Homo sapiens: one gene and its partners. The protein of the gene in region 1 interacts with the protein of each later gene in a pairwise test. Each region holds a gene or a part of one and is shown in the gene's direction. Other genes may lie near its edges.

What was found.
Region 2: the proteins of POU6F2 (region 1) and THADA interact in binary tests that used the Homo sapiens proteins (3 or more experiments, as listed by UniProt).
Region 3: the proteins of POU6F2 (region 1) and BFSP2 interact in binary tests that used the Homo sapiens proteins (3 or more experiments, as listed by UniProt).
Region 4: the proteins of POU6F2 (region 1) and MAPK9 interact in binary tests that used the Homo sapiens proteins (3 or more experiments, as listed by UniProt).
Region 5: the proteins of POU6F2 (region 1) and MAGEA12 interact in binary tests that used the Homo sapiens proteins (3 or more experiments, as listed by UniProt).
Region 6: the proteins of POU6F2 (region 1) and CHAF1A interact in binary tests that used the Homo sapiens proteins (3 or more experiments, as listed by UniProt).
Region 7: the proteins of POU6F2 (region 1) and NUP62CL interact in binary tests that used the Homo sapiens proteins (3 or more experiments, as listed by UniProt).

The regions. Positions count from the first base shown.
Region 1 is NC_000007.14:38,984,409-38,987,908, forward strand, and holds part of POU6F2 (POU domain, class 6, transcription factor 2), read left to right. Parts: intron 1-468; exon of another isoform or gene 469-513; intron 514-3,500. UniProt on the Homo sapiens protein: Probable transcription factor likely to be involved in early steps in the differentiation of amacrine and ganglion cells. Recognizes and binds to the DNA sequence 5'-ATGCAAAT-3'. Isoform 1 does not bind DNA.
Region 2 is NC_000002.12:43,586,039-43,589,538, reverse strand, and holds part of THADA (tRNA (32-2'-O)-methyltransferase regulator THADA), read left to right. Parts: intron 1-2,536; coding exon 2,537-2,685; intron 2,686-2,804; coding exon 2,805-2,837; intron 2,838-3,089; coding exon 3,090-3,138; intron 3,139-3,500. UniProt on the Homo sapiens protein: Together with methyltransferase FTSJ1, methylates the 2'-O-ribose of nucleotides at position 32 of the anticodon loop of substrate tRNAs.
Region 3 is NC_000003.12:133,473,056-133,475,708, forward strand, and holds the end of BFSP2 (phakinin), read left to right. Parts: intron 1-1,913; coding exon 1,914-1,917; 3' UTR 1,918-2,153; downstream 2,154-2,653.
Region 4 is NC_000005.10:180,285,584-180,289,083, reverse strand, and holds part of MAPK9 (mitogen-activated protein kinase 9), read left to right. Parts: intron 1-2,016; exon of another isoform or gene 2,017-2,109; intron 2,110-3,500. UniProt on the Homo sapiens protein: Serine/threonine-protein kinase involved in various processes such as cell proliferation, differentiation, migration, transformation and programmed cell death.
Region 5 is NC_000023.11:152,732,329-152,736,556, forward strand, and holds the start of MAGEA12 (melanoma-associated antigen 12), read left to right. Parts: upstream 1-1,428; 5' UTR 1,429-1,531; intron 1,532-1,533; exon of another isoform or gene 1,534-1,706; intron 1,707-2,819; 5' UTR 2,820-2,925; intron 2,926-3,758; 5' UTR 3,759-3,833; coding exon 3,834-4,228. Other genes in the region: CSAG1 (chondrosarcoma-associated gene 1 protein), read right to left, coding at 117-132. UniProt on the Homo sapiens protein: Not known, though may play a role tumor transformation or progression. In vitro promotes cell viability in melanoma cell lines.
Region 6 is NC_000019.10:4,409,140-4,412,639, forward strand, and holds part of CHAF1A (chromatin assembly factor 1 subunit A), read left to right. Parts: coding exon 1-620; intron 621-1,365; exon of another isoform or gene 1,366-1,384; intron 1,385-3,500. UniProt on the Homo sapiens protein: Acts as a component of the histone chaperone complex chromatin assembly factor 1 (CAF-1), which assembles histone octamers onto DNA during replication and repair.
Region 7 is NC_000023.11:107,203,634-107,207,681, reverse strand, and holds the start of NUP62CL (nucleoporin-62 C-terminal-like protein), read left to right. Parts: upstream 1-1,248; 5' UTR 1,249-1,409; intron 1,410-4,048.

The DNA.
Region 1 (3,500 bases):
GAAAGAGAGACAAGACCTCGAGCAAAACAAAGCAAAAAGGCAGCAGAAAACTCACCAATATACTTGCTTCTTTAGTTTATATTTCTAAGTTATTTTGTAAGCTTACCTCATCTCACCTAGCAATTCAAATCACACACAAAAAATACAGTGAAATAATACGTTAGCACAGGAAAACTAGAATTAAAAAACAAAGTCTAAGAAAAGGCCTCACAGTGCTTGTGCTGTACACAAATTTCAATATTAAGGAAAACTTTTCTTTAAATCTTTAGAGTTTTTACAAGAGGTTAGCCAGTGCTCCGATGCTGTGAAATAGTACTTATTATTTCTGGAGTTTAATATGATGTTGACCCTGCATATTTTATGACTTTGATTTTTGATGAATAATTTAAAACTATTTTTAGAAGAAAATATTTATCTCTAACATCTAAAAACTTAGAGAAACAGGTATATTTTTAAAAGAATACATACCTGTTAAATGGTGTTTTTAGCATTGATCAGAACTCAGGCAAATTCCTGTTCAAAAGAACAAAGCACAACATTTATAGGGAGCTTAGTTTTCAGTGCAGAATTCATATACAGATTTTTTTAAAGGAAGTAGGTTTTTGTTGAGAGTAAAAGGTAAATATTGTACCAAGACAGAAGCAAGGATACCAGAAGCCGTAATTGATACTGAGGAAATATGAGAAAAGTAGATATTTCTTAATTCTTCAGTTCTTTTCCTCCAAATTGGAAGGGCAGAATGGGCAAGAATGGAGCTGGACACACAATAGTAGGGACTATGGCACGCCAAACTTGCTTCAGACACAGCTAGTTAATTTTGTAAGTCTTAAATAATACTAGAAAACAAGCCTCTTTCAACCTTTTCTCCAAAAGGTTGAGAGTTAGGACAAATGTAAAATGCTGCTTAATGGGCACAAATAAAACAAGAACATCAAACTCATTTCACTTAGTGTCAGTCCTGATGATTCATCATTATGGTCAGGGCGAACTCTGGTCTTTGGGCCGAAACAATTTTATCCATTAAAAAAAAATCCAGAATGTTCCAGCTTGAATCTTATATCCTTAGGGTTACAATATTGAATTCCGAATCGGGAAACTTAATCTTGCAGCCAGATTTGACAAGATGCTGGTTGAATGGTGGGCAGAAGTGATGATTGTGGGATGAAATGCCCTAGGTCAGAATTTGAGAAAAATAAGAGATTTTGTGAAAGTTTGGCTGTGATATAAGAATGCCAAGTTTGAAAATTTCTCTCTGTTCATATCAGCAGATGGTGTTCCAGGGTCTTAAAAGTAAATCTCTGCTGTATTCATTTTCTCTGTTTCAATATTTCTTGAACAAAGTGAGTCTTTACACATTCTTAGGTGCATTTCTTGGTGTATTTCTAGAACTGCTAATACAAGAGGTGTTTGTAGTAATATTCAGAAGGTTTCTGGGAACGAAGGCTAATATGGCTCAAATCCCAAACAGTCCTACATTGTTCCTAGGTAATATATTAATCCTCAATTCAAGAACTAAAGTTGTGATTTCTTTTCTGAAAACTTTTTTCATTTGTAAACAAACCTATATCTAGATTCCTAGTGACGAAAGAATTTAGAGTAAAAATGAAAATGAGGCAGTCTAGCAATCTAATTCATTAACACACACGCACACTCACAGACATACTTTAAACATTTTGGGAATACTTGACTATTTAACCTCTAATAATCTAAAAATATTTTGTCTCTGTTTTCAATCTTAGTACCTGAAAAAATTATGACAGATGTTTACTTAAAATACTCCTCTCAACTTGGTTGAGAATGGAAAAATACTTTGCAACTTTTTTGTTTTTGTTTTGAGATGAGGTCTTGCCATGTTGCTGAGGCTGGCTGTGAACTCCTGGGCTCAAGAGACGCTCCCACCTCAGCCTCCTGAGTAGTACTTTGCAGCTGTTAAACATCAAGTTTGTGGTAAGAATTCGAGTACATAGTCGATTGGAAAACTGCAAACGTATGAATATTGTGGTTATTTCCTTCCAAAAACAGGGGGGCTCTTTGGTTTGCAATGTACTGCCATTTGTACTAGTGCTGAAACCTATCAACTGCAATTGCTTTCTCCCTTTCTACCTTTATTTATCAAATAGAATTTAAACAGCTAGTTCAGGCAGAGAGTGGAACATCTGAGTAAAAGTGACAGTACATGAACGCAATTCTTATATGCACGTGATTGAAGTGAGTTAATTACATGGTAGACTCCTATGAGTATTTTTGAATTTTTTACTAAAAAATTATAACAGTAATTTCTGCATATGGCAAACCATTGCAATAGCACAGAATAATATAAAGTGGAAAGTAAAGTATCCTGATTCCACTCGCCACAAATAACCACTGTTAACTATTTCTTATATATCCTTCCAGAGATTTTCTGTGCATGTATATGCAATCCTTACACAACCCAAGTAGAACTATACTATACATAGAGTTCTGCAACTTACTTTTACATATAAAAAATATTTTGAACCTCTTCTCATGTGACTATGAATAGATCTGCATCCTTCTCTGTAGTACTCCCTTTTATGGATATACAGTGATTTATTTAACCAGTTCTCTCTTGATCTAGCTTTTAAAAATAAGTTAGTCTCTGCAATCAGTCTAACAAGTAGAGAAGTTTCATTTCTCTTAACATAAAAGATTTCAGAATTTTCCAAATAGGATTTGTTTGAGCAGAAGAACTCATAAATAGTGTCTCCTGAGAGAAGGTTAAGTGTAATGTTAAAAGTGAAGAGTAGCTTTATGCCACAAGAAAAGATACTTATCATCTATATATTGAATACTCAAACCAATTAAAATAGCAATAAAGATCACAATATTTTATTTAGTAACAAAGAGGTAAGAATGACAGAGAATGGCGTAAAGAGCTGGTTCTCAGTCAGACACACTGTGACTTGAAAACCTTTATGTTTGCTCCAAGCCACCAAACTCAACTGAACAAAATGCTTGTTATTTTCTTTCATGAGCCTCAATGCTGTTTATTAAGATAATTGACATAGATGTATGTTTCCAATGCATGATTCAGTTAGTGTATCTAGATTAGTGAAAAAGAGACCAGAAGAAATTCATGGTAATTAATGTCAGTTAAATTTCTGTTTTCTGTATTTCATATTGTCAGACCAATCCTTCAACCCTGATTCATAAGTTAAATAATGCAGTCACAAGCAGGGCTAAATAAAAACATGTAATGAGACTTAGCTCTTGAATTCTACTAATTTAGGGTTCTGAGAAGGTAGACAAAGTGTACATTATTGAAATATTCCAGAGAATGTAAAAAGTTATGTTTTACGTTTCTTTTAGGATATGTCTCTGCTCGTTCTCTTTAATTACGTCACCTCACATATACTAAGAAGACAGTAACGTAGGTGGTAATGAAATCTTATATTTGAATAAAAGATGGGAGTGTGAGCTGACCATGCCATCTTTCCCTACACAGACTTCCAGAATTGAGCCTATGGAACTGTCCATTGGGT
Region 2 (3,500 bases), on another chromosome or scaffold:
ATTGCAGTGCAATGATCTCTAGAACCTTGTCATCTGCTAAGCTCTGAAACTGTATACATTAAGTAACAACTCTCCATTTCCTGCTCAGCCCTTGGCAGCCACTTTCCGTTCATAAATTTGATTACTTTAGATACCTCATATTAGTGTAATATTTGTATTTATATTTTTGTGACTGACTTATTTCACTTAACATAATGTCCTTAAGGTTCATCCCTGTTATAGCATATGACAGGATTTTCTTCTCTTATAAGGCTTAATATTCTGTTGTATGCATATACTGCATTTTTTTCATCCATGCATCTTTCAATGGACATTTGGGTTGCTTCCACTGCTTGCCTGTTGTGAATAATGCTGCTATGAACATGGGTGTGCAAATATCTATTTGAGATCCTGCTTTCAGTTCTTTGGATATATACCCAGAAGTGGGATTGCTGGACCATATGGTAATACTATTTGTAATTTTTTGAGCAACTGTCATACTGTTTTCCATATGCAACATTTTACATTCCCACCAGCAGTCCTTACTTTTTCAGCTATAAATATTCTGTAATATGAATATACCAAAATTTAAATGTACCATATATATGACATGTATGTATCTATATATGGTACATATTACATGATTTATATTACATGGTATAAAGTAATTTAATCACTTCCCCATTGCAGTGATATTCTTATGTATATAATTATATATGTGTATTTCTCTGAGATAAATTCCAAGAAGTGGAATTTCTGGACCAAAAATTAGGCCTATTGAAATTCTTGGTAGATATTGTTAAATTGTACTCCCCCAGACTACCCATTGAATTAGAATGCTTGTTTCTTCTTCATATATTTCCAACATTGGATACTATCAATCTTTAAATCTTTTAAAATCTAATGAAGGAAAATGCTATCATTATAATTTGTGTATCCCAGATTACTAGTGTAATTGAACATTTTTTAATGTGTGGAATTTGACTTTTTTTATTACATATTCTTTGTACATTTTCTTGTTAGAATGTTTTCTTGATTTATAAGACTTCTCTATAGATCATATGCCAAATACATTCCTTTGTTACTTGTCTTTAACTTTCTCATGGTGTCTTGTCTTTACAAAAATTAAAATATTATTTTGGTTATCAATTCAGCTAATTTTTGTGTATGTAGATTTCTGAGTTTTATACCTTGCTATATGTGCTTTCTGTAATACAAGATTATTTAAAACATTATTTGCAGGCCTTATACTATTTTTTTTTTTTTTGCTCAACTTTTATGTCCATCTGGAATTAAGCTTTGAATGTAGTGTGAGGTAGGGATTCAATTTAGTTTTCTTTTTTATATGGGGAACCACTTACCCAAACTGTTGAATCGTCCATCTTTGCCCACATATTTGGAATGCCACCTTATTGTGTTATATGTTCACATATATACATGGGTTTGATTTCTGAGTTAGGTCCAATTATTCATACACCAACACCACACTTTTATTTACTATAGTTTGATAAAGTGTTTTAATTATATGTCAGTGTTAAGTCATCCCTCTAGTGACTCTTCTTATTCTGAATATTCCCATTTTTGAATTATTTTCTTCCAGAAAAACTTTGAACTGTCCAGTTATATTTAAAACAAAGCCAATCAGTTTTGATGTATATAAATTGAGGCAAAATTGATATGTTTAATTTACTCATTTGATAAATTTTTATTGACTGCCTACTGTGTTTCAGCACTCTTCTAGGAACTGGGGGTAGAATGAATGAAACAGTCCAGAATGGAGGTTACATTCTAAGGGGAAGATAGAAAATAGACAAAATAAATAAGTAACATTTATAGGATATTAGATGGCATGAGTGCTATCTAAAAGCGGGAAGGAAGGAAAGGGGACATAAAGGATGGGGTGAGGGTTACAATTTAAAATATTATGGTCACTTCATATAGCTTTGCTCAGACATGATAAGGTAATTGAGATTGACCTGAAAGGGATGAGGCAGTGATTGCTGGGTATATTTGAAGGAAGAGTATTTTGGATGGAGGAAACAGCAGAAGCAAAGACTGGTATGTCAGAACAGAGCAAGGCCATGTAGCTAGAGCTAAGTGAACAAAGATCAAGATGAGGTCAGGATTGTGATAGATGCCATTTTAAAAATCAAGAAAAGAAAAAAAATAAATAAAGATGAGGTCAGGAGCTAATGGTAGTGCCAGATTGTATCGGGAGGACCTTGTAGGTCACTGTAAACACTTCAACTAGTACTTTAACCGAGAAGGATATTGTTGGAGGTTTTAGTAAGAGAAGTGACATGGTGTTTTAACGGTGTCACTCTGCCTGTTCTGTTGAGAATAATCTGGGAGATGGGAGAGAAGCAAGGTGGAAGCAGGGAGACCAGATGTGCTGACAAGCCAGGAAATTCGAGTGATGGTAGTGTGTAGTTGTAGTTTTCTGGCTGTATTTTGAAGATTTAGTTCAGTATTCCCACATTTGTATGATTCTCTTCCCTCTCCACATATTCTGGGGCTATTAGATTGTCAGATTTTTAATATTTGTTTCTTTTTCTAGCTCACTAAATAGCCTGCCTGATTTTTTTCTACCTGAGGCTATGCACCGTTTTACTTCTCGTCTTCAGGAAGAATTGAATACTACTGACTTATACTCTTACAGGAAAGTTACTGACAATATTTCTTCCTGTATGGAGAACTTTAACTTGGGTAAGGCTGCACTTTTCTAGTCCTTTTTCTGGCTAACCCCTCTCATCACATCATAGTTTTTAAATGACATTGATTTTGGTCGTGAAACTCCTTACCAGTGTTCATTTTTTCCTCTACAGGTAGAGCAAGTGTTAATAATCTGCTTAAAAATGGTAAGTCCTATTATTTTATTTTGTTCCATGAGTTGATGGCTTGTATGAGTCATTTTGGAACTGGCTCTTTTAAGTTTCTTGGTAATAGGTAGAGCATTGTAGATAACTTAGGTACATCATGACCCTTCCTTTTAAATTTTTGTTTCCATATCATGATATCATTTTGGATAACAGTGATATAAAATATTTTATTTTATTGAAATTGAGCTTCACAGTTTTAAATTCTTATTTGTCATATTCTTTTTGTTTCAGTGCTTCATTTTCTGCAGAAGAGTTTAATTGAAATCCTGGAAGAAAATAGGCAAGTGCTATATGTTGGCATTTGTGTGTGCACACTTGCAGTTGTACATTATCTTTGTACAAAGAAAAATTTAAAAGTCTCAGAATGTGATCTTTTCATCCCTTTTCATTAATATTATCACTTTTATATTTTTTTTGAGATGGGGTCTTGCTGTGTCACCCAGGCTGTAGTGCAGTGGTGTGATCATAGCTCGCTGCAGCCTCAACCTCCTGGGCTCAAGTGTTTGTATCACCTCAGCTTCCCACGTAGCTGGGACTACAGGCATGCACCACCACACCCAGATAGTTTTTTTTATTTTTTTGGAGACAGAGTCTCACTATGTTGCCCAGGCTGGTCTTAAACTACTGGACTGAAGTAATGTG
Region 3 (2,653 bases), on another chromosome or scaffold:
TAGCTGGGGTTACAGGTGTGAGCCGTGACACCCCAGCTGGGCATCTTTTTTAAATGCAGATTCTGCTTCAGTACGTCTGGGGTGGGGTCTGAGAGTCTTCCTTTCTAACAAGCTCCCAAGTGATGACTATACTGCTGCTCCACAGACTACACTCTGAGTAGCAAAGATGTGTAAATCATTTATTTAAGAGTCCCAGAAACAGGTGATCTAGGCTGCTCAAAGATTTCATTAAGGACTCAAGCTCTTTTCATCTTTCTAACATACCATGACAACATTGGCTTTTTGTCTTTATCTTTGTCACCCCATGGTTACCATATGCCAGCCACAGATCCAAACATCACATCCTCATTCCTGGCCGGAAGTGGGAGAGAAGAGGCAGCAGCAAAAAAAAAAAAAAAAAAAAAGGCTTTTTCTTTTTTTTTATTGATCATTCTTGGGTGTTTCTCGCAGAGGGGGATTTGGCAGGGTCATAGGACAATAGTGGAGGGAAGGTCAGCAGATAAACAAGTGAACAAAGGTCTCTGGTTTTCCTAGGCAGAGGACCCTGCGGCCTTCCGCAGTGTTTGTGTCCCTGGGTACTTGAGATTAGGGAGTGGTGATGACTCTTAACGAGCATGCTGCCTTCAAGCATCTGTTTAACAAAGCACATCTTGCACCGCCCTTAATCCATTTAACCCTGAGTGGACACAGCACATGTTTCAGAGAGCACAGGGTTGGGGGTAAGGTCACAGGTCAACAGGATCCCAAGGCAGAAGAATTTTTCTTAGTACAGAACAAAATGAAAAGTCAAAAGGCTTTTTCTTGAATGATCCTCTCCTTTAATCAGTGAAGGAAAGACATTTTGAGGCTTGCAGTGGACTGTCCCTTATATCTCATTGGCCAGAACCTGCTTATACTGGCCATACCCATCTGCAAGGGAGGCTAAGAAAGCAACTCTTTAGCTTTTCCAGACTCCATAGTGGAGGCAGGCAAGGGGTTGGGACTAGGAGTTGAGTTAGTCTGCCATAATTACACACACACACTTGCACTCACTCTTTTTTTAATAGATAAGGATTCCAGAGGCATATACATCAGCCTTGGGCCTTAGCTTCCTTGCCAACTCTTTCCAGAAACCCAGGCCCTTATTTTGTATCATAGTTCTATGCCTTCTTATTTCCCTCCAAGACTCCTTGTCTGACATATGTTGAATAAGGAATAGAGACAGCTTAGTGATTGTATCATCCAACCCCTCCTGATTCAAGAGAGAACACAAAGACCCAGAATGGAAAAAGATTTGCGCATGATCACACAGGAGGCGGAGACAGCACTGGGATGGGAGCCCAGGTCTCCTGCTCTCTCCAACTGTGTAACCTCTCTTTATTCAGAAGGCGGGAGAGCCTCAAGGAAGCGACCTAACCACGCCCTGCTTTCAAATGGAAAATATGTCATCCAGCTCCTCTCCAACTGTCTTTTATTGAATTGATTTTTGTTGATTATAAAAGCCAGATGTTCCTAACAAAGTATTTTTTTTTCAGATGCCTATGAGCATCTGTATAAACACACAAAGTCAATTTAAACAAACAGCAAGAGCAGTGAGTTAGGCCGAGTTACTTCTTAAGAATCTATGTGCTACGTTCATTTAGTGAGTGCCAAGGCAGACCTGACTCTTGATTATTTTTGTTTATCCTCCAAACCCTGCCAAGACAACCTCATGATCCGTGTTTTAGAGACAGGAAACAAAGCCTCAGAGAGCTTAAGTCATGGCCCAAGGTCTCACAGCAAATAACCATGGAGTAATTATTTAAAACCCAAAACTATCTTGTTCCAAAGGCCAGATTCTTTCATGAGATGGCCCCCTTTCTCGTAATCCTATTGTGATAGAATGACCGATTTTCCTCACCCATTGCTTCTGACTCCTATGTGTTTCCTTTCAGCTGATGGAGAAACTTCCTCTTTTTCATGAAGAAAACACCCTTCCTCAACAGCTGACCCAAGAAGTTGCTTGAGGAGCTTTCTCCTGAGCTCCAGTCCCTGCTGGATTCCCTGGTTAATTCAGCTTGAGCTGAAAAGCTTCCTGGAAGTGGAGAGGATCCTTCTGCTTTAATCTGAGTAGTCTGTAGCTTGAGCAATCTCCCTTGTCCTCCTTCAAATAAATGCTTTGTGCGCAGCGTCCAGTTTGCCCACCTTGTTCAACTCACTATAGGGTCGAGATGGATATCACTTTGTCTGTCTGGCCTTTGCTCACAGAGCTATGCTTGAAGGCTTCTGGAAGGATTCCCTTGAGTGTGACGCCATCTGCCTCCCTAGGGTCACCTGCTCTTGGGTTTGTCAACATAAAAGTGCTGCGGAGGCAAAAGCAGTGCTCATGGCATGCAGGATTGACGCAGTCTGGGACAAAAAACAACACTCTTGCTCGAGAGGGGATTAGTGTGGTGCTTTATCACATGTTTCATAATTACAGGCATCGTGGAGTATTCAGACCTCTTTAATATACTCTGCATGCATATTCATGTGCAGACACACACATTTCACTTGCTATTGGCAGAGCATCTCTCAATCAGTTAAAAGGGAACTTCAATCTAAGCCCAATCTAAACCCATTCAATCTAAGTGGGGGATTAATTACACTGTGGTTGCTCACCCCACTTACAGCCTCAGAATTTTCTTCCAGGGTC
Region 4 (3,500 bases), on another chromosome or scaffold:
ATTTTTGGTCTACATACATACAGTAGTTACACCTCACACTTGGTTAGGAAGGTGCCATTTTTACATAATTTTCCTTCAGAATAATTAATTCCTGATACTTTGTACTTGATTGTATGAACCAGTTTCAACATCATTCTTTTTATTTTAACTTTTATTATGGGAACTTTCAAACATATACAAAATAAACAGAATAGTGTCCTGCTTTAACAGTTATTAACTCCTGACCAATCTTGTTTCATCTCTAATGGTATCCACTTGCACCCTTACCACCCATAATTATTTTCAAGCAAATCCTAAATATCATGTCATTTCATTCATTATTTTTTGGGATACTAATTACACAGTGGGTGCCCAGTAAATGTTTGGTAAAGACAAAGCTAAATGGGAGAATAAATGTGGTAGGGTAGCTCGGAGCAGTGGGTAAGATCAGGACTTTGAGTCAGACTCCCAGTGGGTCTGCTGCTTATCTGGGTGATGTGCAGAAGCGATTGCACTCATCTGTAAAACATACGGGCACAACCTCAGGGTGCTCAGGAGGTGTACAGTAGTTATACTTCACACTTCGGTAGGTCTCTAAAGGTACTGACTCTTTTAAAGTTGAAAAAGTAATAATTGCTTAATATCATCAAATAACTAGTCAATATTCAAATTTCCAGCTGCCCCATGAATTTTAGGTTTCCTTAATAGTTTGAAAGTAGAGCAAGAGAAGGCCATACGTTGTTGATTGGATGATACGTCTTTTAAGTTTCTCTTAATCCATAGATCCCCCTCCTATTTCTTTGTTTTCTTGGTAGTTTATTTGTTGAAGCAATCGAGTTGTTCCTTAGCATTTCCATAGTTGGTATTTGATTGATTGCATCTCTGCAGTGTAATTGAATGTGTTTCTCTGTAATCTCTGTAAGTTAGTAATTGGATCTAGACGAGGCTTCGTCAGATTTAGGGTGCATTCCTGCATCAAGATGCCTTCCTAAGTGGGCTGTGCACTTCTTATCTAGAGGTACCCTGAGGCTCTCTGCTCGTCCGTGTTGCAGATGAGTGCAATCGCTTGCTGCACATCACCCAGATAAATAGCAGACCCACTGGGAGTCTGAAGTCAAAGTCCCGATCTTAACCACTGCTCCCAGCTGCCCTACCGCATTTTTTCTCCCATTTAGCTTTGTCTTTAACAAACATTTTTTGGGCACCCACTGTGTAATCAGTAGAGGATTGAGAAATAAATCAGACACATTTTCTGCCCTTACAGAGTAGAAGTGTAAGTAGACTCGGAATGCAATCTAAAGCGAATACTGGGAGGGTGGCAAAAATGGGGGCATGCCCAGCATGGTTTGAAGGGAAAGGCTGGAGGAGGAAACATGTAAGAGAAGCAAGTGCTTGAACTAGATTTTTGAAGGAGGGTGAATGTTGACCAGCAGGTCAAAAAGGGGAGGGAAGTCATTTCAAGCAGATGGAACAGCTTAGGCAGAGGCCTGAAGGTGTGCAGTAGCTGGGTGTGTCCGCTGATCCCAGGTGGTTTGATGTTGCCTAAGATTGGGCCAGAGGACTGCCATCTCCTGTGCTGTGCTAGGGAACTGAATCTTATTCTCCAGGCAGTCAGTCACTGTTGAAGGAGTTCAAATGGGAGAATGGTGTGATCACTGCACACTTTCAACAAATCTCTCTTTTTTCTTTCCATATTTTGAAATAATTATAGATTCACAGGAAGTTGCACAAATGGCACAGAGAGGTCCCAGTACCCTTCCCCCAGCTTTCTCCCACGGTTACATATTTACACAACTGTAGTAAAATGTCTAAACCAGGACATTGGGCATCGGAGCAAGGTGTATAGAGTTCATTGTCATTTTTTATCGTGTGAAAATTCCTATAACCACTACCACAATCAAGATTCAAAACTATGTCATCATCCCAGATATCTCCTTGTCCCACCCCCTTACAGCCACAGCAGCCCCTTTTCCCCACCATTCATAACTGCTGGCAAGTACTAATCTAGTCTGCATCTCTATACTTTTGTCTTTTCAGGAATGTTATATGCATGGAGTTATACAGGATGTGACTTTTTGAGATTGGCTTTTTTCGTTGACTATCCTGCCCCTGAGATCCACCCAAGTTGTGGTATGTTTCAGCAGTTGCTGAGTGGTATTCCATGGTATGGGTATACAGCAGTTAGTTTAACCATTTACCCATTGAAGGACAGGTTTGGGTTGTTTCTAGTTTGGCACTATTAAAAATAAAGCTGCTGTGAACATTTGTGTACATATTCTCACGTGGAGTGATTTCTCTTTCTAAAGTGGCATGTGTGCAGTGGTTCGGAAGTCACAGAAATGGTGGCTGGGAGAATGCTTCTGCTGTCGCTGGTCCAAGGAGCCACGAGAAGCCCTTACCCAGGGCCCTGGGAGTGGGGGATTGAGAGGGAAATAGGCAGGCCTGGGTGCCTGGAAGTGGGGCTGGTGACGGAGATCCTTGCAGGGTCCTATGGATCCAACAGTGGGTGAAGTGATAACCAAATGCTAGTTGTTCTGTATTGTGGTATATACTGTGGCTTAAGAACTACAGAGGATGGCCCTGAGAGCTGCAAGGTTCTTGATTATCAAAGAAAGATTACGTTGTTATACCAAGCTATTCTTCATAAGAATTACAGTAGGAGGCCAGGCGCGGTGGCTCACGCCTGTAATCCCAGCACTTTGGGAGGCTGAGGCGGGCGGATCATAAGGTCAGGAGATCGAGACCATCCTGGCTAACACAGTGAAACCCCATCTCTACTAAAAATACAAAAATTAGCTGGGTGTGCTGGCGGGCGCCTGTAGTCCCAGCTACTTGGGAGGCTGAGGCAGGAGAATGGCGTGAACCTGGGAGGCGGAGCTTGCAGTGAGCCGAGATCATGCCACTGCACTCCAGCCTGGGCGACAGAGCGAGACTCCGTCTCAAAAAAAAAAAAAAAGAAAAGAAAGAATAAAGAATTACAGTAGGAAAATAGAACTTTTTAAATTTTTACTATTTTTTTTTTTTTGAGACGGAGTCTCGCTCTGTCGCCCAGGCTGGAGTGCAATGGTGTGATCTTGGCTCACTGCAAGCTCCGCCTCCCAGGTTCACGCCATTCTCCTGCCTCAGCCTCCCTAGTAGCTGGGACTACAGGCGCCCGCCACCACACCCGGCTAATTTTTTGTATTTTTTTAGTAGAGACGGAGTTTCACCATGTTAGCCAGGATGGTCTCCGTCTCCTGACCTCGTGATCCACACGCCACAGCCTCCCAAAGTGCTGGGATTACAGGTGTGAGCCACCGCACCCGGCCAGATTTTTACTATTATTATTATTATTATTGTTTAATATAGAGTTGAAGCCTCACCATGTTGCCCAGGCTGGTCTGGAACTCTTGGGCTTAAGTGATCCTCCCACCTTCGGCCTCCCACAGTGCTGGGATTACAAGTGTGAGCCATCTTGCCCAGCTGGAAAACAGAACAATTTAATGAAAAAAATGTCGGCAGCAAGCATTGAGACAGAGGGT
Region 5 (4,228 bases), on another chromosome or scaffold:
TATTCAGGAAAAAATAGCTTGACATACATAGAGGAGTATAACATATTCATTCATGGGGAACACAACAGTGTAAAAATGTAAACTCAGCTTAAATTATTTACAATTTAGTGCCTTACCTGTAGTCGCCGACATTACAAGCAAATTTGGGCTGCTGTGCTCTGCTTCCCAAATCAACCCTGTAAATTTATAGAATGGAAACAGAAAGTAAAAAACCAGTATTAGCAAGAAAATCTACACAACAAAACAGGGCCAGTCCAGGGTGAGACTGAAGACCTTGTTGAGCTGGTACTTGTGTGTGACACTTGCCGTGTCGGTTAGAGGGGGTTAGCGGCAGGGATGTTGGGGAGGTTTGTAGCCTGCCTAGACGGCAGATAACAGAATGGGTAGAATAAAAGTTTTAAAATTTCCACTTCACTTCATTGCACAATCTGAGGCAGCTCCTGAAAACACGATGCCAAGAGCCCTAGGTAATAGCAGGACACCAGGAAAATTGGGTTTGTTAAGGCAGCATGGCTCCAGAGTTCTGCTAATAACAACCTGAAACCAACATAGTGGGAGAGGAATTACGTTTAAAAAAAAATTCCTTCAACAGAACACAAAGACTGGAATAGAAGTAGATTAGGATAGTAAGAGTGAACGATGCATACTAAGGGTAGGTGTTAGTTCGTAGAAATAAATATATATATCGCTACCTACATATATACTTGGAAGATATGTAAACCGTATTTCTTCAATTCAGTGAATAAATCATTTAGGACCAAAGGTTTGCCAAGTGTAGCTCTGGCTGGAGAGGAGCTCCCGTGGGAAAGTGTCTGTCTTCTTCCAGAGGTCAATACGATCGTGGGAGCTCCCGCCCTGCAGGGAGCTCCTGGCCTGGGACCCGCAGCCATTCTCTACAAGGGGTGCAGCTGTGCAAATGCACAGACGTTACAGAAACAGAGTATCTCCTGCCAATCACTTCATCCAACAGCCAGGAGTGAGGAAGAGGACCCTCTTGAGTGAGGACTGAGGGTCCACCCTCCCCCACGTAGTGGGACCACAGAATCCAGCTCAGTCCCTCTTGTCAGCCCTGGTAAACTTAGGCAATAATGTCACCCCGACCACACCCCTCCCCCAGTGCCACTTCAGGGGGACTCAGAGTCAGAGACTTGGTCTGAGGGGAGCAGACACAATCGGCAGAGGATGGCGGTCCAGGCTCAGCCTGGCATCCAAGTCAGGACCTTGAGGGATGACCAAAGGCCCCTCCCACCCCCAACTCCCCCAACCCCACCAGGATCTACAGCCTCAGGATCCCCGTCCCTATCCCTACCCCTACCCCCAACACCATCTTCATGCTTACCTCCACCTCCATCTGGATCCCCATCCAGGAAGAATCCAGTTCCACCCCTGCTGTGAACCCAGGGAAGTCACGGGGCCGGATGTGACGCCACTGACTTGCGCGTTGGAGGTCAGAGAACAGCGAGATTCTCGCCCTGAGCAACGGCCTGACGTCGGTGGAGGGAAGCAGGCGCAGGCTCCGTGAGGAGGCAAGGTAAGATGCCGAGGGAGGACTGAGGCGGGCCTCACCCCAGACAGAGGGCCCCCAATAATCCAGCGCTGCCTCTGCTGCCGGGCCTGGACCACCCTGCAGGGGAAGACTTCTCAGGCTGAGTCGCCACCACCTCACCCCGCCACCCCCCGCCGCTTTAACCGCAGGGAACTCTGGTGTAAGAGCTTTGTGTGACCAGGGCAGGGCTGGTTAGAAGTGCTCAGGGCCCAGACTCAGCCAGGAATCAAGGTCAGGACCCCAAGAGGGGACTGAGGGTAACCCCCCGCACCCCCACCACCATTCCCATCCCCCAACACCAACCCCACCCCCATCCCCCAACACCAAACCCACCACCATCGCTCAAACATCAACGGGACCCCCAAACCCCGATTCCCATCCCCACCCATCCTGGCAGAATCGGAGCTTTGCCCCTGCAATCAACCCACGGAAGCTCCGGGAATGGCGGCCAAGCACGCGGATCCTGACGTTCACATCTGTGGCTCAGGGAGGGAAGGGGGTCGGTATCGTGAGTACGGCCTTTGGGAAGCAGAGGATGGGCCCAAGCCCCTCCTGGAAGATAATGGAGTCCGGAGGGCTCCCAGCATGCCAGGACAGGGGCCCAAAGTACCCCTGTCTCAAACTGAGCCACCTTTTCATTCGGCCGCGGGAATCCTAGGGATACAGACCCACTTCAGCAGGGAGTTGGAGCCCAGCCCTGCGAGGAGTCAAGGGGAGGAAGAAGAGGGAGGACTGAGGGGACCTTGGAGTCCAGATCAGTGGCAACCTTGGGCTGGGGGATCCTGGGCACAGTGGCCTAATGTGCCCCATGCTCATTGCGACTTCAGGGTGACAGATTTGCGGGCTGTGGTCTGAGGAGTGGCACTTCAGGTCAGCAGAGGGAGGAATCCCAGGATCTGCCGGACCCAAGGTGTGCCCCCTTCATGAGGACTGGGGATACCCCCGGCCCAGAAAGAAGGGATGCCACAGAGTCTGGCTGTCCCTTATTCTTAGCTCTAAGGGAACCCGATCAGAGATAGCTCCAATTGGCAATGTCATTTGTACCACAGGCAAGAGGTTGGGGAACCCTCAGGGAGATAAGGTGTTGGTGTAAAGAGGAGCTGTCTGCTCATTTCAGGGGGTTGGGGGTTGAGGAAGGGCAGTCCCTGGCAGGAGTAAAGATGAGTAACCCACAGGAGGCCATCAGAAGCCTCACCCTAGAACCAAAGGGGTCAGCCCTGGACAACCTACCTGGGAGTGACAGGATGTGGCTCCTCCTCACTTCTGTTTCCAGATCTCAGGGAGTTGAGGACCTTTTCTTCAGAGGGTGACTCAGGTCAACACAGGGGCCCCCATGTAGTCGACAGACACAGTGGTCCTAAGATCTACCAAGCATCCAGGTGAGAAGCCTGAGGTAGGATTGAGGGTACCCCTGGGCCAGAACGCTGACAGAGGGCCCCACAGAAATCTGCCCTGCCCCTGCTATTCCCTCAGAGAGCCTGGGCAAGGCTACCTGCTGAGGTCCCTCCATTATCCTGGGATCTTTGATGTCAGGGAAAGGGAGGCCTTGGTCTGAAGGGGCTGCACTCAGGTCAGTAGAGGGAGGCTCTCAGGCCCTAGCAGGAGTAGTGGTGAGGACCAAGCAGGCTCGTCACCCAGGACACCTGGACTCCAATGAATTTGGACATCTCTCATTGTCCTTTGTGGGAGGATCTGGTTATGTATGGCCAGATGTTGGTCCCCTCATGTCCTTCTGTACCGTATCAGGGATGTGAATTCTTGCCATGAGAGTTTCTTTGGCCAGCAAAAGGGCGGTATTAGGCCCTGCAAGGAGAAAGGTGAGGGCCCTGAGTGAGCACAGAAGGGACCCTCCACCCCAGTAGAGTGGGGACCTCACAGAGTCTGGCCGACCCTCCTGACAATTTTGGGAATCTGTGGCTGTACTTGCAGTCTGCACCCTGAGGCCCATGGATTCCTCTCCCAGGAATCAGGAGTTCCAAGAACAAGGCAGTGAGGCCTTGGTCTGAGGCAGTGTCCTGAGGTCACAGAGCAGAGGGGGTGCAGACAGTGCCAACACTGAAGGTTTGCCTTGAATGCACACCAAGGGCCGCACCGGCCCCAGAACACATGGGACTCCAGAGCGCCTGGCCTCACCCTCCCTACTGTCATTCCTTCAGCCTCAGCATGTGCTGGCCGGCTGTACCCTGAGGCGCCCTCTCACTTGTTCCTTCAGGTTCTGAGGAGACAGGCCCCGGAGCAGCACTAGCTCCTGCCCACACTCCTACCTGCTGCCCTGACCAGAGTCATCATGCCACTTGAGCAGAGGAGTCAGCACTGCAAGCCTGAGGAAGGCCTTGAGGCCCAAGGAGAGGCCCTGGGCTTGGTGGGTGCGCAGGCTCCTGCTACTGAGGAGCAGGAGACTGCCTCCTCCTCCTCTACTCTAGTGGAAGTCACCCTGCGGGAGGTGCCTGCTGCCGAGTCACCAAGTCCTCCCCACAGTCCTCAGGGAGCCTCCACCCTCCCCACTACCATCAACTATACTCTCTGGAGTCAATCCGATGAGGGCTCCAGCAACGAAGAACAGGAAGGGCCAAGCACCTTTCCTGACCTGGAGACGAGCTTCCAAGTAGCACTCAGTAGGAAGATGGCTGAGTTGGTTCATTTTCTGCTCCTCAAGTATCGAGCCAGGGAGCCATTCACAAA
Region 6 (3,500 bases), on another chromosome or scaffold:
CAGTCATCATTGATTTGACAGAGGACTCGAATGAGCAGCCAGACAGTCTTGTGGACCACAATAAACTAAATTCTGAAGCCTCTCCCTCCAGGGAGGCAATAAATGGCCAGCGAGAAGACACTGGGGATCAGCAGGGGTTGTTGAAGGCCATTCAGAACGACAAGTTGGCATTTCCTGGAGAGACCCTTTCAGACATTCCTTGCAAAACAGAGGAGGAGGGTGTTGGCTGTGGAGGTGCAGGGAGGAGAGGCGACTCCCAGGAATGTTCGCCACGGAGCTGCCCGGAGCTGACGAGTGGCCCGAGAATGTGCCCCAGAAAGGAGCAGGACAGTTGGAGTGAAGCTGGGGGCATCCTGTTCAAAGGGAAGGTGCCTATGGTGGTCTTGCAGGACATCTTGGCTGTGAGACCACCGCAAATCAAGTCCCTTCCAGCCACACCCCAAGGCAAGAACATGACCCCTGAGAGTGAGGTGCTGGAATCTTTCCCCGAAGAAGACTCTGTACTCAGCCATTCGTCCCTGAGCTCTCCCTCTTCCACCAGCTCGCCCGAGGGGCCGCCTGCTCCCCCAAAGCAGCACAGCAGTACCAGTCCCTTCCCCACCTCCACGCCCCTCCGCAGAGTGAGTATCTCCCATGGAGTCCCTGCACATCAGTGCTCACGGATCTCAGAGCGCTGTCAGTCTCCACTGGGTCACCCAGGTGTTTTGTGGCAGAGTGAGCGGGGCCACGGGCTGGGTCCTGGGACTCGACGTGGAGTTCTTCCTGGTATCAAAACTCACAGTGTTCAGTTCTGCATTCGTTGTGATGCCCCTGGGACTTAATTCATCAACAGTGTACCTGGTGTACTGTGTGAATAACACCCTGCTGTTTTGCCTTCGTTGTTCACATCTAATCAGTGATAGCTTAGCCGTTTTAGGGAATTAGGATCTGAGCTGGTGCTGTAACCCCTCACTTCAGATTCGAGGTCCAGCTTTCTCTGTGCCCTTCCTGTCTAAGCATAGAAATGTAGGGACGGGGCTGCAAAGACACTGAGCACTGAAGTGGCAGTGAGACGGCAGGAAGCATGACTTGGGGAATTCTGTAGGGTCAGCACAGCCAGCCATCTTAAAAACCTTACCTGGGGCCAGGCACAGTGGCTCATGCCTGTCATCCCAGCACTTTGAGAGGCCGAGGTGGGAGGATCGCTTGAAGATCACTTCAAAACCAACCTGGGCAACATAGACACCATCTCTATGAAAAAAAATTACTTTTTTTTTTTTTTTTGACAGAGTCACTCTATCACCCAGGCTGGAGTTCAGTGGCGTGATCTCGGCTCACTGCAACCTCCACCTCCCAGGTTCAAGCGATTCTCCTGCCTCAGCATCCCTGATAGCTGGGATTACAGGTGCGCACCACCACACTTGGCTAATTTTTATATTTTTAGTAGAGACAGGGTTTCACTATCTTGGCCAGGCTGGTCTTGAATTTCTGACCTCAAGTAATCTGCCCGTCTTGGCCTCCCAAAGTGCTGGAATTATAGGCATGAGCCACTGCACCCAGCCCTGCAAAAAAATTTTTAAAAGTTATCCAGGCATGGTGGCACATGCCTGTAGTCCCAGCCACCTGGGAAACTGAGGCAGGAGGATCACTTGAGCTGAGGAGTTGGAGGCCGCAGCGAGCTATGATCACACTGCCGCGCTCCAGCCTGGGTGACAGAGCGAGACCCCATCTGGAACCATTTTTAAGGACCCCATAAGGGGGACTTTTGCATGGTCTGTCTCTGTTATTGATTTTTTATTAGCACAATGGTGTCCTTAAGGTCTTAGGGACCAAACTGATAAAATCAGTCACGAGTCCCACGGTGTTTAGTGGTGTCTTTTGATTTTATAATTTTTTACTTTTTATCTTAAGTATGTAGAACCAGAAGAGACAGTGCCTTTTTATGTTTTTGGTTTTGTAGCACTTTTGTTTGTTCATGTTGGGTCTTTATATGAGAGTAGTAGATCCTGAGATGGGTCATTTAATCTGTACCTGTAAGCAGGTACAGTAGACCACCTGGACCATAAACCACCAACCTTGTTCGCTTTCGGGATTTTGAGCTCTAAGGAACCATTTATTTATTTATTTTTGAGACAGAGTCTTGCTCTGTCACCCAGGCTGGAGTACAATGGCGCCATCTCAGCTCACTGCAACCTCCGCCTCTTGGGTTCAAGCAATTCTCCTGCCTCACCCTCTCAAGTAGCTGGGATTAGAGGCACCCGCCACCATGCCCAGCTAATTTTTGTATTTTTAGTAGAGACGGGGTTTTGCCATGATGGCCAGACTGATTTCAAACTCCTGACCTCAGGTAATCCACCCGCCTTGGCCTCCCAAGTTTCTGGGATTATAGGCGTGAGCCACTGTGCTTGGCCAAGAGCATTTATTTTTCTGAATGACTTCATTTCTTGTCTTTCACCTGAGAAGATGAAAAAGGAAAAAATGGCTTCCTCTTTAGGTTTATGAAATGTTGTAAAAATGGTGCAAATCTTTTTTTTTTTTTTTTTTTTTGAGACATGGTCTCACCCTGTCGCCCAGGCTGGAGGGCAATGGCATGGTCTCAGCCTACTGCAGCCTCCACCTTCTAGGTTCAAGCGATTTTCCTGCGTCAGCCTCTTGAGTAGCTGGGATTACAGGTGCCCACCACCACGCCTGGCTAATTTTTGTATCTTTTCAGTAGAGACGGGTTTCACCATGTTGGCCAGGCTGGCCTCAAACTTCTGACCTCAGGTGATCCGCTTGCCTCGGCCTCCCAAAGTGCTGGGATTACAGGCATGAGCCACCGCCCCAGTCTTCTACTTTGTTTTATATGTGCTGGTTTGTTATATAGGTAAACTCTTGTCGTGGGGGTTTGTTGTACAGATTATTTTATCACTCAGGTACTAAGCCTAGTACCCTCTTCTAAGTTACTAAATGTGCCAGACTGGCATGTACACATTTCAGCTTCTACCTAATCCACCACTCAATCTCCCAAAATCAGAGTTGAAGTCTCTCCCCATTGGGCATCCTGTAGTGTACATTCGATCACTTGAATTTCTTCCAGGCTGCTGCCGCTTTGCAAAATTTCGTCCTGTGATGTGAGCCATTTAGCAAGAACGGGACACATGGCTGGGCGCGGTGGCTCACACCTGCAATCCCAGCACTTTGGGACGCCGAGGCGGGTGGATCACCTAAGGTCGAGAGTTCAAGACCAGGCTGACCATTATGGAGAAACCCCGTCTCTACTAAAAATACAGAAAATTAGCTGGGTATGGTGACGCTTGCCTGTAATCCCAGCTACGCCGGAGGCTGAGGCGGGAGAACCGCTTGAACCCAGGAGGCAGAGGTTGCGGTGGCCTGAGATCGTGCCATTGCACTCCAGCCTGGGTAACAAGAACAAAACTCCGTCTCAAGAAAAAAAAAAAGGACAGGACACAAGCACATGTTTCCATTAAGTTTGTTTCCATGTCCACAGCTTAGTCTGCAAACTGGGAAGTCCCCTCGTT
Region 7 (4,048 bases), on another chromosome or scaffold:
GGGATTACAGGCGGGAGCCACCGCGCTCGGCCTGGCAAATTTTCTTGCTGTGCTTTAAATTTTCTCCCTAGTCCTATTTTTTTCCTTTCTTCAGGAAATATGGTCTCTGTTCTGAATCCTTATCACAAGAAGCTCTTAAGGAGTAATGACTCCTCCCTCTTTGGTCAAACTAGGTTCTCTCCCTTCACTCAGATTTAATTTTTTTGGTCACACTTCCCCACCTTTTGATAGTTACAGTCAAACGACATGTAATACTTACTCTCCCAATCAGCCCTTGGCGAGTAGCAGGTCTTGTAGGTACAAGTAGTCTCTGCACAGTACACTCGGGCCCACCAAGTGAAGGTCTGATTACTTCTCACTCCTCAGCTTATCTAACCAAGCAACACTGGAACCCTCAGACCACAGCGTTCAAGTTGTCGCACAAAGGACATTATTCACGTAGTAAGTACTGGGGCCATTTTTTTTTCAGTCTGAAGTGTGATATCCCCCAAAACATTTCCTAACCAAGGCATGCTAGGCCAGGATAAATCGTGCCTGCACATATAAAACAGAAGGGTACAGTGGCTGCTCCAGTTTGGAGCACCCAGGTCCTCCTATAAGAAAATATGGTTTACATTCCCAAATTAGTCATTATTAATGGGAAGGGAGAACCAATAAGTGCATGTGAGAGTTGAGAGAAGACCAGTTGGGAAACTTTCAGATGTTTACTTTTGCCTTCTGACAGTCGATCAGCATCCATCTTTCACTCACATCCTGTAAAACCGAGTTTTGTTAAAGCAGCGTCCTGTTTCTAGAGTCTAGGATAGCGGGATTTAGTGAAGAGTCTAGGATAGCGGGATTTAGGGAACGGGTCTTCTCCACCTTGCCCAACTTGTGGCTTTTTGGGGTATCTCGCAGAGTTATAAATATCTAGAGTTCTCCCTAGTTTTTCTGATAGCCACAGCATCTGAGGACCCTGTCTTTCCCCGTCTTGAGGTTCGAGTTTCCTCACCTTGGTCAGTTTTCCCGTCTCTGGCTAGGCTCCGAAAATAGACTGTGCAGAGCGTGGCGTCTCTCCGTTGCTAGGGTAACAACTTTGTTTTGTTCCCGCCCCCCACCTGCCAACCTCCGGGTTCCCGCTTGACTTTTCTGGCCAATCATAGAAGAGTCTCATCTGAGACTGCACTGGAATCGACCAATCCGAGCGCGTCCAGGTCAGGGTCACTGGTCGCCCTTTCTAGTTAACCAGGTCGACCCCTTTTAAGCCTCAGTCTCGGTTAGCTTCACTTCAGCGGGAACCTGCCCACTAAGGAGGCCGATTCTTTCCGGCTCGAGCAGGTCCGGACCCGCCCCTCTGGCGTCTAGCAGTCTCGGAGGCCTGCCCGTATAGTTCAGGGCCGGACAGCGAGCGGCGGCGACTTGCCAGTAAGGTAAGTTTGTGGGGTTTTCGTTTGTCCCGTTCGTCAGCAGGCTTCGCTCTCTTTTGCGCTTTTCCCGCGCGTGAATTCCCGATCTGAGGACTCGAACTCCAGCCGATCTGGAGAGACGGGGGCAGAAGGGTAGGGTCAGTGGGCCGGGGGTAGAGAAGGTTTTGCTACAGTCCTCCACGCCCCCAGCCTTTCACGTCTCCCCCACGCGACAGAAACACGTGTTGTGCTTCTGTCTTGGCTTGTCGCGGGCGATAGTGTGTTTGTATGTGTGCAGGTGGGATCGCGCTTTTTATTCTCCTCTGTAGGCAAGGCTTCCGGGCCCCAAGTCCCCGGGGGAGCACCTGGTCAACTGCCACCCGGTTCCTGTGGGGCACTGGCTTGAGCTACGTGTCGTTCCCACTCTAAGGAACATCGCGACTCCGGGAGCTCTGCTTTTCCCGCCTCGGAGTGGAGAAAAGCAGGCGCGCCGCTCGCTTGCCACTGCTAGGGAATCTGGTTGTCTTAAGTTCACTTAGAGATAGAGTTGTTACCCTAGTTTCCCATAAATTCCGTGGCTTGGTTTTAAACAAAGGGGCGGCGGGGGGATGGCGTAATAAATATTTGGAGTATTCAGGACTGATTAGCCATGATCAATAGTAGGACCCCACAGAAGGTTTTAATGAATGGTTACTTTTGGTTATTCAGGTATTGGAATTTGATTATGAATGAACTAAACTGCTTCCCTTCTTTCTATATACCATGCATTTCTTAACGACCATCCCATCTGGCATAAGAGATAGTGAAGTTTGATTAATTTGTCCCTTCTACTTGTTCTTATCTACAGTAAACAAAAAATGGGGGTAGAATAAGGTTATTGGCTAAAGTAACGTTATTGGCCTTTTGGCCAAATTACCAATACCTTAATTCCGCTTATTACTGTGAATGATCAGAGTTTAGCTGTCTTGCATTTTGCTAATTCACTAGATACTTGTGGAGCTTAAATTATAGATATTATGCCATCTCCTTCTTCTTGCTTTTTTGTTTTTATTCTGCCTCACTGTGCATTATTCTAAGTCTGTAATGCTCAGCCGGTGTTTTTCAGACCTTTTGACTGTGACCGACAGTAAGAAATAAATTTTATATTGTGACCTAGTACACATGTAGACAATATATAACCGACAACTGTTTTTACAGAAACAACACTTAACACTTACTACTTGCAATATACTCTGATAATTTCCATTACATTTTAAAAAATGTACACCACAACACCCTAATGATTTGTCCCTAGACCTTTAGTTTTCAAACTTGTGTGTGCACTTTATTTAAAATTTATTTAAATAAATAATTTATTTAAAATTTATTTAAATAAATAATTTATTTAAAATTTATTTAAATAATTTATTTAAAATTTATTTAAATAATTTATTTAAAATTTATTTAAATAAATAATTTATTTAAAATTTATTTAAATAATTTATTTAAAATTTATTTAAATAATTTATTTAAAATTTATTTAAATAATTTATTTAAAATTTATTTAAATAATTTATTTAAAATTTATTTAAATAAATAATTTATTTAAAATTTATTTAAATAAATAATTTATTTAAAATGCAGATTGCCCTGGCTCCCTCCAGAAATTGGTTCTGTGGTCTAGTGGGACCCAGGAAGATATACAATATAGCATATATGAAATACTTGGTACAGTGTCAAGTGCACAGGTGTTCAGTGAATATTAGTTTTCTTCTTGGGGAACAAATGTTATTTATCTTTAGGGATATAATCAACTCTTCAAGGTTTCATCTGTCCCTGGCAAGGTGGCGTCCAATACTAAGAACTGTTTTCCCCAGGTAGAGGAAGTAGCGGGGTGGGGGATGGGTCCAGGATCTGAGATTAATCTTTAAGCAGTTGGCTTCCCTGAACAATGTCGGAAATACAGAAGCTTAGAGGTTGAGGAACATAAGGATTAGAGAGGTTCTGTGACTTTCCCAGGATTGTGCTGTCAGTAAGTGGATCTCCGAGACTAGAAGTCACTTCCTTATTCTAATATTCTTGTCCATTCTGCCTTGATAGCAGCCGCAATCTGGAGGCAGTGGTTGAAGCAGAAAGAGAGCTTCCCTAACTTGCCTATCCCAAAGGAGAGACAACTGAATTTGACTCCTAGTTCGGTTTTAAAGTAATGAAACTTCTAACCTGCACATTGTGCACATGTACCCTAAAACTTAAAGTATAATAATAAAAAAAAAGAATAATGGTGAAATAAAGGTTTTTTTAAAGGGAAAAAAAATAATGAAACCTGAGAGATCTAAAATATTTTTTAAAATACACCCAAAGGTTTCTGTGGATTTATAGCTATGAAAAATGGATATAGTTTAGCTAATTCTTTTATATAGAGTATTTTAAAACACTGGTTAAATAATTTATTAATGCAACATTGAAAGAAATTAAAGATGAAAAATCTCACTCAATTCTGCTACCATAATATAACTGATAATTCTGTTCCCCTCCTATCTTTATCCACATGTACCCATGTTTTTACATGATTGTGATCCTTTTTCATATACTTTTTTGTTATTTTTATTTAATACTGTTTTGGAAATTTTTTTCTGTGTTGTGATGATCTTTATATTTTGCATTATTAACAGCAACCTAATATT